3 linked regions of the Homo sapiens genome follow. The protein of the gene in region 1 purifies or fractionates together with the protein of each later gene. This does not show direct contact. Each region holds a gene or a part of one and is shown in the gene's direction. Other genes may lie near its edges.

Region 1 (3,746 bases):
TACGGTTGTCACTCTTTGGTGGCTTGCCTGGGTGGCCGAAATCCTCGCCTAAGGAGCTGACATATGCTGCAGCAGCGCCATTCTCTTCTGCTGTCTTCCTTTGCTATGGAAGCTTTTCAGTGAGGTTTTGATCCCCTTTTATGGTGACACAAGTGAGTTTGTTCCTTGGTTTCCTTTGTTCATTTATTCATCCTTACTTTCTTGCTTCCTTCTTTCCTTCTTTTCCCCCTTCCATACATATTTATTCAGAGTCTTGAATAAAGCTCCTGTCTTCCAGCTTTAGGTTGTCAGATAATAGGTGCAATTGTTTTTTTAATTGGTGCTGGTCTTTGGTAATTTGTATACACGCATGTATACCTAGGCATTCATTAAGAGCAAGGCTCAGGAGTGCTGATATCCCATTGGCCAGGACTTATCACTTGCCTATGCCTAGCAGCCAGGGAAGTAGAGAAATGTTGATTTTTTTCTCTGCAGTCATGTGTCCAGTTAAAATCTAGCACCATTAAGGAAGAGAAGAAAGCAGATACTGGAGAACAGACTGCCACACTGGATTTCCCAGGTCTTTGTTCATTCTCATCTTTATCTGCTTCTCAATACCCTTTGCATCCCTCAAAATTCAGCTCAAATGTCATCTCCTTCGAGAGGTCTGCTGCCCAAAGAGAACCAATCTTTCTCTCTCCTCTGTTACTGTTCCACAATAGCACCTATCACATTGACTTGCAGCCAGTTATTTATGTGCCTGTGACTTCCACTAAATTGTGAAATCCTCAAAGACAAAGACCAGATTGTGCCCATCTCTGCATTCCCAGATCTCCAGAAACATGAGAGATGCTCCAGAAATATTTGTTTAGCCAATAAACCTCCAGAAATAATGGAAGGATATCTCCCCCAAATGAACAAGGTGTACCTTAGAGATCTTTTTCATCTTCCCCCTTTGCCTAATAGAGGCACCCCTATTGCCTGATATAACTCACTTTAGAAGAGAGGTTAAAGATGAAACTCTGAGTTTTCTGGGCAGGGGTCGGGTTGGGGGAAGGATAAAGCCCATACTGGATTCTAATCTTCTTCCAGATGTGGCCTCACATCTGAAATACACTCCCTGTCCTCAGGCATCATCAATGACATGCCATCAGTTCTAACAAGTTCTCATGGAATGCAGTCTTTTTACCCTGCAGGGGCAGAGCACTAGGCTAGGTACAGCCACAAGGGTACAAAGGCACCAAGCAGCAATAGTAAGGCTCCTAACCCCTTAAGTTGTGAAACCAAGCCTGTGGTCATGGGCAAGTCAAGAGCAGTTAATGACTTAAGACTTAAGACTTAAGAATATTCATAAAATTAAAGCAAATAATTCGGATTTCTGGCTGCAGCCACAGTAACCCACTCTAGCCAACAGAAGGGGGAAAAAAGGTCTTTATTTAAAAAAATACAAGGATTTCTTATGAAACTCAAGGAAAGACATGCACCTAAGCCTCAGGTAGTGCTAGAAACAAGAACATGTCCTACTAGGACATTTTATGTGATTTCAAGTTTATTTTCTCTATAGCCAATTGGGACCCATGCTTTTCAAAGTCTGAGTTACGTGATAAAAAAAAATTTTTTTTAGTTCCTTCAGGGAGGAGTGTGTTAGTTTTGTTAATAATGCCTGATAATTGTCCCCATCCAAGGCATGATTTACACGCAATTCCATTTCCAAATTCCCAGGGAAGGAGTTTGATTGGCTCAGCTTGAGTCAGGTGTTCACTCTAGGACCATCAGCTGGATAGGGTGCATGGGATCTCATTGTCTAAAGAAACAAGCTGTTATTGTCACCTACGGTTAGAGAGGTCCGGGAAAGGGTCATGCTAGGAGAGTCCACTACCATCTACCCAAAGCTGTAGTAATAGGGTGGCAACATGGTGTTGTGCTAAGAACATAGAATTTTAGTTCCGCCACTTGATCGCTATGTAGCCTTAAGCTCGCCACTCAACCCTTCTGAGCACCAGTTTCCTTAGCTATAAAATACAGAAAAGAATAATCTACCTTGTGGTGTTGTGAACATTATATAAGAGAACACTGGTAAAGTGTCTAGCAGAGTCTGGCATATGGTAGACTTGCCACTTCCTTCAAAGTCTACAAAGTGGTTAAATGTAAGCATGAATCTTCATGTAGCTAATGGGAAGGGAGAAAGGAGAATCTGTGGAGCAGCGGATCCAACAGAACTTTCTGTGATGACAGAAACGTTCTAGATCTATGTTGTACAACATGGTAGTCACAGGCCATATGTGGCTATTGAACACCCATATTGTAATTAGGTAAGGAACTGAATTTTTAATTTTATTTAATTTTAATTAATGTAAATGTAAACTTAAATAGGCAGCAGCATTCTTTTCTCTTTTTTTGAGACAGAATCTTGCTCTTTTGCCCAGGCTGGAGTGCAGTGGTGTGATCTCGGCTCACTGCAACCTCCACCCCCGAGTTCAAGTGATTCTCTTGCCTCAGCCTCCCAAGTAGCTGGGATTACAGGCACCCGCCACCATACCTGGCTAATTTTTGTATTTTTAGTAGAGATGGGGGTTTCACTCTCTTGGCCAGGCTGGTCTCGAACTCCTGACCTTAGGTGATCCACCTGCCTCAGCCTCCCAAAGTGCTGGGATTACAGGTGTGAGCCACTGCGCCGGGCCAGCAGCAGAGTTCTTAAGCAGTAGTTTCTATCTTGGCTACACATTAGAATCACTGGGGAGATGTAAATACTAATAATATCCAGTTCCTACCTAGAGAGATTCTTGTTTAATTGCTCTGGGATAAGGCCCAAGCCTAGGTGCTTTTTTTTAAAAGCTTCCCTGGGACTTCTACTCTGCAGCCTGAAATTGAGAACCACCAGTAAGGAGAAGGAGGAGGAAAAATGAGGGTTCTGGAAGTCTCAATGGGTTCCTTTTCTGAACTACTTGCATGCAGTAATTAGGCTGGCTAGTCTAGCTTTGGGTTTTACCATGCTTTAGGCAAAGTATTTCTACAGGAAGATTCATGTTAATCAGCGACACCTAACTTCAGCATAGGTGGCTTGGAGAGCCATTTTCCTTTTCCCACATGATCTCTTCTCTTCCCTTGCCAGGGTTCGTGTGAGCCAGGATGGGCAGTTTCTGCACTACATCTTTCCATACCAGTTCATGGACTCTCCTGAGTGGGAATCACTACAGCCTTCTGAGGAGGGGGTGTTCCAGGTAACAGGGAGCCTGGTGGCAGCACCGCCTCACCCCATCCCACTGTAGCCCAGCAATATCCGTGCCTCCATGTTTCCCCTCTTACATCTGTCCTTCGCACCCCTGCCAGTGTGAAGCTACAGGCGGGGGCACTCTTCCTCTGAAAAGAGTTCCTGGGCTCCTAGCCATAGGTGAGGTAGGGTAGGAAGATGCTGGCCCCTGGGTAGACCATGTTACTTGTATGCTTAAACTCTTCTGGAAGACCCTAGTGCCACAACATAAAAACCCACACTTGTTATAGGGTAACTTAAACCTTTTAGTGCTCTCTAGTCGCATTTCCAGCTCTCCCTCCTTCATATTTTTTGCTCATACTAGCCATGCTGAACCACTAGTACTTCCCTAAACACACCACATTGTTTTGCAGCTCTATGCCTTGGCCCCTACTCTCCCCTCTGAAATGCATTTCCCCTTCTAGATGAGACCACGGAACCTCACTTCCACTGTGAAGCCTGCTTCCACCCCACAGCCTCACCAGCTTCCACCCCACAGCCTAGCACTCCTGTGTGC
Region 2 (3,746 bases), on another chromosome or scaffold:
ATGGGATCTTCCAGTTTCAGCCTCCTGAGTAGCTGAGACAACAGGCGTGCACCACCATGCCTGGTTAATTTTCTTTTCTTCTTCTTCTTCTTTTTTTTTTTTTTGAGATGGAGTTTTGCTCTTGTTGCCCAGGCTGGAGTGTAATGGCGAGATCTCAGCTCACCACAACCTCCGCCTCCCGTGTTCAAGCTATTCTCCTGCCTCAGCCTCCCAAGTAGCTGGGATTACAGGTGCGTGCCACCACGCCCAACTAATTTTTGTATTTTTAGTAGAGATGGGGTATCACCATGTTGGCCAGGATGGTCACAATCTCCTGACCTCGTGATCCACCCACCTCGGCCTCCCAAAGTGCTGGGATTACAGGCGTGAGCCACCGTGCCTGGCCCAATTTTTAAAAAAAATTTTGTAGAGATGAGGTCCCACTTTATTGCCCAGGCTGGTCTGGAGCTCTTGGGCTCAAGTGATCCTCCTGCCTCAGCCTTCCAAAGTCCTGAGATTACAGGCGTGACCCACTGCACCCAGCTCCTTGCCACCTTCTTGGTGCCAATCAAAATAGTCCTGAATAAAGTCTGACTTACTGTTTTAACAAGAGTCAGATTTTTTTCTTTAATAAGCGCAGTAGAAGAGGTGAACTGAAGAGGAGGGGCTGCAGTCATTGATGAAGACAAGGTCCAAGGCAAAACCACAGACTAACAAGGTAAGGTGGAGGTTGAGATTTATGGAAGCAGAGTTCAGTGACGGACAGGCCAGGGTATGCCAAGGGAGTGCTTATAACTAACTGACCCTGAAAAAGTTTTTTTTTTTTTTTTGAGACAGAGTCTCGTTCTGTTGCCCTGGCTGGAGTGCAGTGGTGCGATCTCAGCTCACTGCAACCTCTGCCTCCCAGGTTCAAGCGATCCTCCTGCCTCAGCCTCCTAAGTAGCTGGGACTGCAGGCGCATGCTTGAGTTCAGGAGTTCCAGAGAGGCCTGGGCAACATGGCGAAACCCGGTCTCTACAAAATATTTAAAAATTAGCCAGGCGTGGTGTGTGCCTGTGTAGTTCCAGGCACTGCGGAGGCTGAGGCAGGAGGATGCTTGAGCCGGAAATGCAGAGGTTGTAGTGACACGAGATCGCGCCACTGCACTCCAGCCTGTGTAATAGTTCCTGGATCAAAAAAAAAAAAAAAAAAAAAAGGAAATGTATCTGAAACTTTCCAAGCTCCAATTTCCTAATCTGAAAAATTGAAATAGCGGTACCTACCTCACAGAGTGGCTAATTTAATGCAGTGCTATTTGCAAGGGATAATTTATCAAACCTTTAGGCGTTGTTCTAAAGTGCCCATTAAATGCTCACTGAACTCACAGCCTTAGGAGGGAGGTTCGAGTTTATGCCCATTTTACATATGAGGACGCGTTGGCAGGTGGTACTGCTGTTCATGGGATCTGTAAAGAGTGAAGAAGGAGTCTCAGCTCTCAGTAGAGTTCATAGGCTCTAGGATTTCTGCTGGAAGTGAGAACACTGCAGGGAGGCAAGAAAGCGGGCATCAGACGGTGCAAAGCGACCCTGGGCCCAGATCGGCGGCCAATGGCTCCCTCCGGTGGCGGAAGCGAAGAGCGCAGCTGGATCGGGCGCGAAGGGAGGATCCCCGCAGCGGGTGAGGGGCGAGGCTGGGACCCGGTGGAGGTTCTAGGGTTTTGAGAGGTTGGAGGACTAGAACTCCAGAAGTCCCTGAACGAAGTGGGCCGGATTTCCCGTGACGCACCTGGCCCAGGTGTTGCAGCCCCGCCCACCTCCCTGCCGCTTTCCGCCATCCTCACACGCCCCCTTTAGTGGGGTGGCTGCTCACCGCACCTCGGAGCTCGGACTGGGGTCCGGCCCCTGCGGCGACGATTGTTTGTACCTAAGTGAAGGAGGCTCCGAGACCCGCGGCCCACGTCCTGCCGGAGACGCTTGTCTGCAGGGCTGCATTGCATCCCCGGGCGCACGTGGAGCTGGAGCAGCGCAGGCTGGGGAAGAGCAGAGAGGGTCGGGCTTCTCCGGGCGCGCCATGGGGCGGGGCCGAGGACGGGGACCAATAGCGCGCGCGTGCTGGTGGGGGTGGGGACAGGCTCCAGGCCTGGCATCCCGGTAGCCGCAGCTGTCTTTTCCGGCCCCCGTGCACTCTCCGCCCGAGCGGAGCCCCCCGGCTCGCGGGGATCGCCCCCGAGCGCTGCGTCCTGCGGGTGGGTGAGTGAGCGCCTCGCGGCCCCCGAGCTGTGGGGTGCACCTGGCCGGGGAGAAGGATATCTTGGCTCCCTTGCACCCCAACGGGCGCAAAGGGGCAGGAGCCCGGATTGGGGGAGGAGGAGGACCCGGGGACCTTGTGTCGCTCGGTGGGAGCCGGTCTGTGTTTCTGTTTCGCTAGGGTGTGTTTGGGTTGGTAGAGTTTGTGGGGAGGGGTGCCTCGTGTGGATGGGAGGAATCGGGGAGGCTAAGGCGAGGAGGAGGGGGTTTGAGATGGGTTGAGGGAGAGGATTGACGGAGGGTGGGGTTTTGAAAGAGTTGGAAGTTTCTTGTTACCTGTGGGTGCGGTGATTGCATTGGGGGGCTTGGTAGGGGCAGCTCAGGACACCGAAGGAGAGGATGGGGAAGGCTCTCCTGCCCGTAACTTACTTCCCTTTTGGGAGATTTGGTTCCTCTTGCATTGCTAGTTAAGGAAGGAGAGGCTGGAGAAGCCTGTGCCGTCAGAGAACCTTTGCCCCTTTCCAGAACCGGTGCCATCCCTAGTCTCAGGAACATAAGGGAAGGGGTGGCCCCCAGGAGCCGGGAGGGGCCTTGAAACCCCTGCTGACAGGTTTGGGGTACCACTTTTTTGTGGGGCAGTGGCTGGTACCATTTGCAGCCCACGGACTTTTTTGAGTTGCCGGTAAGCAGGGTGTGGGTGCGTTCCTGTTTCCTTGCGGTTGTCTCTTTTTTTTTTTTTATTGACACAGGGTCTCGCTCTGTCACCCAGGCTGGAGTGCAGTGGCATGATCTCGGCTCGCTGCAGCCCTACGCCTCCAGGACTCAAGCGATTCTCGTGTCTCAGCCTCCCAAGTAGCTGTGATTACAGGCATGCACCTTCACGCTTGGCTAATTTTTTTTTTTTTCTTGTGAGACGGAGTCTCACTCTGTCACCCAGGCTGGAGTGCAGTGGTGTGATGTCGGCTCACTGCAACCTCTGCCTCCTGGGTTCAAGGGATTCTCCTGCCTCAGCCTCCCAAGTAGCTGGGACTACAGGCATGAGCCACCATGCCCAGCTACTTTTTGTATTTTTAGTAGAGACGGGGTTTCACCATGTTGACCAGGGTGGTCTCGAACTCCTGACCTCAGGTGATCCACCTGCCTCGTCCTCCCAAAGTGCTGGGATTACAGGCATGAACCACCGAGCCTGGCCAATTTTTGTATTTTTAGTAGAGAGCAGCTCTGTCTTTTGGGGAGGCTTCAGGGTGTTTGATTAGTGGTCTTTGGGGGTGGGCGAGCTCTGTGGGGGAGCTTTTGATGCAACATAATCTCCTTTGCAGGTCACCTAACCCATTTGTGGCTTCCTCTACCTGTGCTCAGCCATGGCCAGCGAGAGCTCACCTCTGCTGGCCTACCGGCTCCTGGGGGAGGAGGGGGTTGCCCTCCCTGCCAATGGGGCCGGGGGTCCTGGAGGGGCGTCTGCCCGGAAGCTGTCCACCTTCCTGGGTGTGGTGGTGCCCACTGTCCTGTCCATGTTCAGCATAGTTGTTTTTCTGAGGATTG
Region 3 (3,746 bases), on another chromosome or scaffold:
ACAGGAGGGTTGTGACCTTGGTACTTGCCTCACTGTGTTTAAATTCAGGTAAGGTAAGAGAATTGAAGAGGTAAAGCTACCTTAGAGAGTATTGCTGCATCTACCCTGGTGACTTACAAGGTACTTGAATTTTTTTTTTTCTAGCAAACTGCTAAAGTTAGCCTTTGCCTTTTTCCCAGAGACTCTCTAGGAATTTTTCCCATCTGCTGACTAGGAGGTAAGCCCGGACCTAAATTTTTGTCTTGTTGTAGGTTAATTAAGACTGGTGTTAGATTCAGCTCCTAAGGCCTAAGAGAATTTAAGGTTGTCTTCTGGGAAGGACACCCAACAGCAGCATTGGAATTGGAAAAAAAGTGTAGGATTTTGCTGAGTGAGCAGGGGGAAAGCAATGTAAAGCCCAAGAGAATATCTTTTGAACAAACGTCCTTTTCATTTTGGTTTAGAAATAGAAACGTGGTAAAAGGAGGCGACTGTTTTCTGAAGGCTTGTAGCACGAAAACAGGCCAACTGGCCAGCAACTAGTTGTCTATCAGTTTCTCTACTCACATACATCTGCCTTTTCCAGACTGCCAGCGCGGAGCACTAGTTTGACTTTGGGTGCTCTTCAAATAGCTGGCATTGATAAGGCATTCCCAGAAGACTGTGTTACTTAGTAATCTTGTCGGTACATTTTTTCACTGGGCAGAGATTTTCCAAACAGAGAGCTGCCAGCTTTCAAGACGTCAGAGTGCTTTTTCATCCTGAAATTGGGTGGGAAAATGGGGAGAAGAAAAGCACGGTTCAGATCAATCAATGAGAGAGAACCCCTCCCTCCATACTCGTTAAACAACAGGTGGTTTTGCTGTGCACCGTCAACTCCTTTATGCGGGAGCTGTAGGCGGGGCATTCCAACTGAGTCTCCCTGGAATCTGCCCCTTAGCCCGTATTGCAGGGGCGGTGCAGTTGGGGATTCCGGCCTGAAAGGAGACTTGGTTGTCAAGGGGCTCAAGGGCTTCATGATCCAAGGATATTGGGTTTTGCTTTTCTCCTTCTCCATCTTCCTCATTCTATCCCACCGTCCCCTCCCCACCCTTCTCTTAGGAGGCCTTCGCTTCTCCTGTGGAGGGGTTATCTTCATCCTGACCCTGGCCTTCGGAGGAGTTCCCAGAAGGGCTATTTTTAGTGGTGGCTGCTCCCCTCTAACTTACCCAGGGGAGGAGCTGCGGTGGCTGAGCCGACGCTGCGCGCACAGCCGCCTGTGGTTTTCCGCGCATTGTGAGGGATGAGGGGTGGAGGTGGTATTAGACGCAGCCGAATCCTCCCTCAGAGTCCGCCAGGTGGGCGTCTCAGGGGTGGGAGTGGCCGCGTCGTGAAGCGGAGAGAGGATTTCTCTCCTGGTCCTGGAGAAGGCCCCCGGCGGCCGGCGGCATCCCTCGCTGGCGAGTCCCGGGAGCGAGGTGGTCTCTGCAGGGGAGGAAGTTCCCGGGCGGCGCGGCCTGCGTCACAGCGGGGCTGGCACCGCGGAGTCGACTCGGCGGGCGGTGGCGACCCCGGGGCCGGGCGCTGGGCGGCGCTGGCTGCCGCTAGCCGGGCTGCGTGCGGGGCGGCGCTGGAGGCGGCTCCGTCCGCGGCCGGGGAGGCGGAGGGGAGGAGGGCTTGCGGGGCTGGGGCGTTAGCTGCGTCCCGGCTGGAAGCCCGCGAAGAGAAGTAGGAGGAAGGCGCCGCCGTGGCCGCGGCCGCAGTGCTCGGGCGCGACAAGCCATGAGCAGCGACCCCGCGGGCGACGCCGCCGTCCCTGGCAGCCGCTGAGCCCGACCCCCAGGCAGCTCGCCGCTCCCTAGCACCTTCTCCAGTCGACACTCTCGCGCCCGGAGGTAAGGGCGGGGGATCCGCGGAGGGATGGAGAGGGGCAGCCCGCAGAGGGCCACCCGCTCGGTCCGCTGTGCGCGCCGGACCGGGACTCGCCCCGCCTCACTCGCGTCCTTGCTTCCCCCCGGCTCTCAGACAGGCAGAATGTGGTTGCCCGCCCGGCGTGTGGTGCTGGGAACCTTCCGCTACTGCGGCTCAGGAGCCCGCCAACCCCTACCCCACCCAATCCGCGCTAGCCCGAGCGGCCGCGCGAGGATCTCAGCCTGGCGCCCAACGCCGCGCCGCAGCGGCAGGTCCTGCAGACTGGGCGCGGGGGTGGGGGGGCGGTCCGCGAGGGGAAATGCGTCCGTGGCCGGGGCGATCGTTGTTCTTTCCTACCTCGAAAATCTCTGAGACCCCGGGGCCAGTCCTTTCCGGTCTATCACCCCCCTGCCACCTCCGAACCCTTGAAGTTAGCACTTTTGGGCAGGGAAAGGAATTGGAAGGTTTCTCGAAGAAACGTGAGAGCACCGTGTGCTCACCTGCAGGACAGGAGGGAAGGGGTTCAGCTTGATCGGGCGGGCCCCAGAAGCCAGGTGTTTAGGCCAGCGGTTGAGGCCAAAACCGCTGCCTTCATCCCACGCCTAGGCTCGCTGATCTTTCCCTTTCCAGCTGGTTCCCACCAATGAGATGATTAGGGATGGAGTTAGCAACTCAGGAGCCTTAGATGTGTTCTGTGGACACGAATGCCTTTCTTTTCTCCCTCAGCCGGTTCTTCCCTCCCCAACCCCCACGCCTGCCCGGTATACAGCAAAGTCCAAACAGTTTCTTCCAAACCTCGCATCCTCCGTAGTTTTGCAACAGCCGGACACCTAGCCCGCATCCTAATGCGGATATTTCAGAGTATTACGGCTAAACTTCCCTTGGTTTCAAATTCCTTAAACATGTTAAAGCCTCAGCAAACGTTAGGAAACATTTTCAGGTTCCCATCCTCAAAGTAAAAAATAAGAACCAATCCATCTTTGTTGGAGTGCCGGTGTTTGGCACGGGGAGGCTTGAATTACCTCCATTTAAAGCAGCCTTTGAAGGAAGGAATAGGTAAAGGAAATCGCAGCCGTTTGTAAGTCACATACTTCTTTCGCGGTAGTGTGAGAAACGTAGCCTTAACCAACAGTCACATTTCCCGACAGGTATGTGATGGTTTCCCAAAGCATCGATGAGGCTTCAGCGTGGGCAGGTCATTAAGATGCCATTTAGACGAAAAAGGAGTAAAAGTGGAGTAGTCCTCTTGGTTAGCACAATGCTGCAAAATCGCCAGAGCCAATAATTTTTATACATTTATAAATTCTGTTTATTTTTAAATAATTTGTTGAAAACCCAAAACGTAATCTGAGCTGCATAAAACTCGCTCAATTCATAAACAATGTGTTGAGTGTGTAAACAAACATTAAATGTATACAGCTCTAGTCTAGGATATTTGCATTTCTTGTGACTTGCTTTAACAGGGAAGGCCAAGGCTATAATTGGTTTGCTTTACTCTGGAGTGATTAAGTTCTGTCTTGGGGTCAGTTTGTTTCCTTTGAGGGGGATGTAGGGCAGTTTTGCAAAGATGGATATTTGCCATGGTTCACATAATAGATTGGGCACAGACAGGACCCATCAACCCAACAATTGTATCAGAGATACCAAGTATATTTAACAATTTTCTTATTAATAAAATCAAGCCTTTATTAATAGTACTAATCTATTATTTCTCAGATTAAGCACTTTAATGAAATGTATTTTTAAAAGGGAATGCTTTTAGTGAAAATAATGCATTAGGAGCTGTAAGATAAATGAATGAAAATGTTGCACTTTATTTCCATGAAGTTTATCTTTTAAAAAACAATACAAAGTTAGAAATATGTTTAACTCCCAAG

The links.
Region 2: the proteins of POPDC2 (region 1) and SLC12A9 purify together in Homo sapiens (affinity purification with mass spectrometry; 3 studies listed by BioGRID and IntAct, with this or other methods). This does not show direct contact.
Region 3: the proteins of POPDC2 (region 1) and LRRC8C purify together in Homo sapiens (affinity purification with mass spectrometry; 2 studies listed by BioGRID and IntAct, with this or other methods). This does not show direct contact.

Annotation. Positions count from the first base shown.
Region 1 is NC_000003.12:119,653,959-119,657,704, reverse strand, and holds part of POPDC2 (popeye domain-containing protein 2), read left to right. Parts: intron 1-3,091; coding exon 3,092-3,200; intron 3,201-3,746. UniProt on the Homo sapiens protein: Important for the maintenance of cardiac function.
Region 2 is NC_000007.14:100,850,633-100,854,378, forward strand, and holds the start of SLC12A9 (solute carrier family 12 member 9), read left to right. Parts: upstream 1-2,080; 5' UTR 2,081-2,203; exon of another isoform or gene 2,204-2,386; intron 2,387-3,523; 5' UTR 3,524-3,565; coding exon 3,566-3,746. UniProt on the Homo sapiens protein: May be an inhibitor of SLC12A1. Seems to correspond to a subunit of a multimeric transport system and thus, additional subunits may be required for its function. May play a role in lysosomal ion flux and osmoregulation.
Region 3 is NC_000001.11:89,631,470-89,635,215, forward strand, and holds the start of LRRC8C (volume-regulated anion channel subunit LRRC8C), read left to right. Parts: upstream 1-1,650; 5' UTR 1,651-1,853; intron 1,854-3,746. UniProt on the Homo sapiens protein: Non-essential component of the volume-regulated anion channel (VRAC, also named VSOAC channel), an anion channel required to maintain a constant cell volume in response to extracellular or intracellular osmotic changes.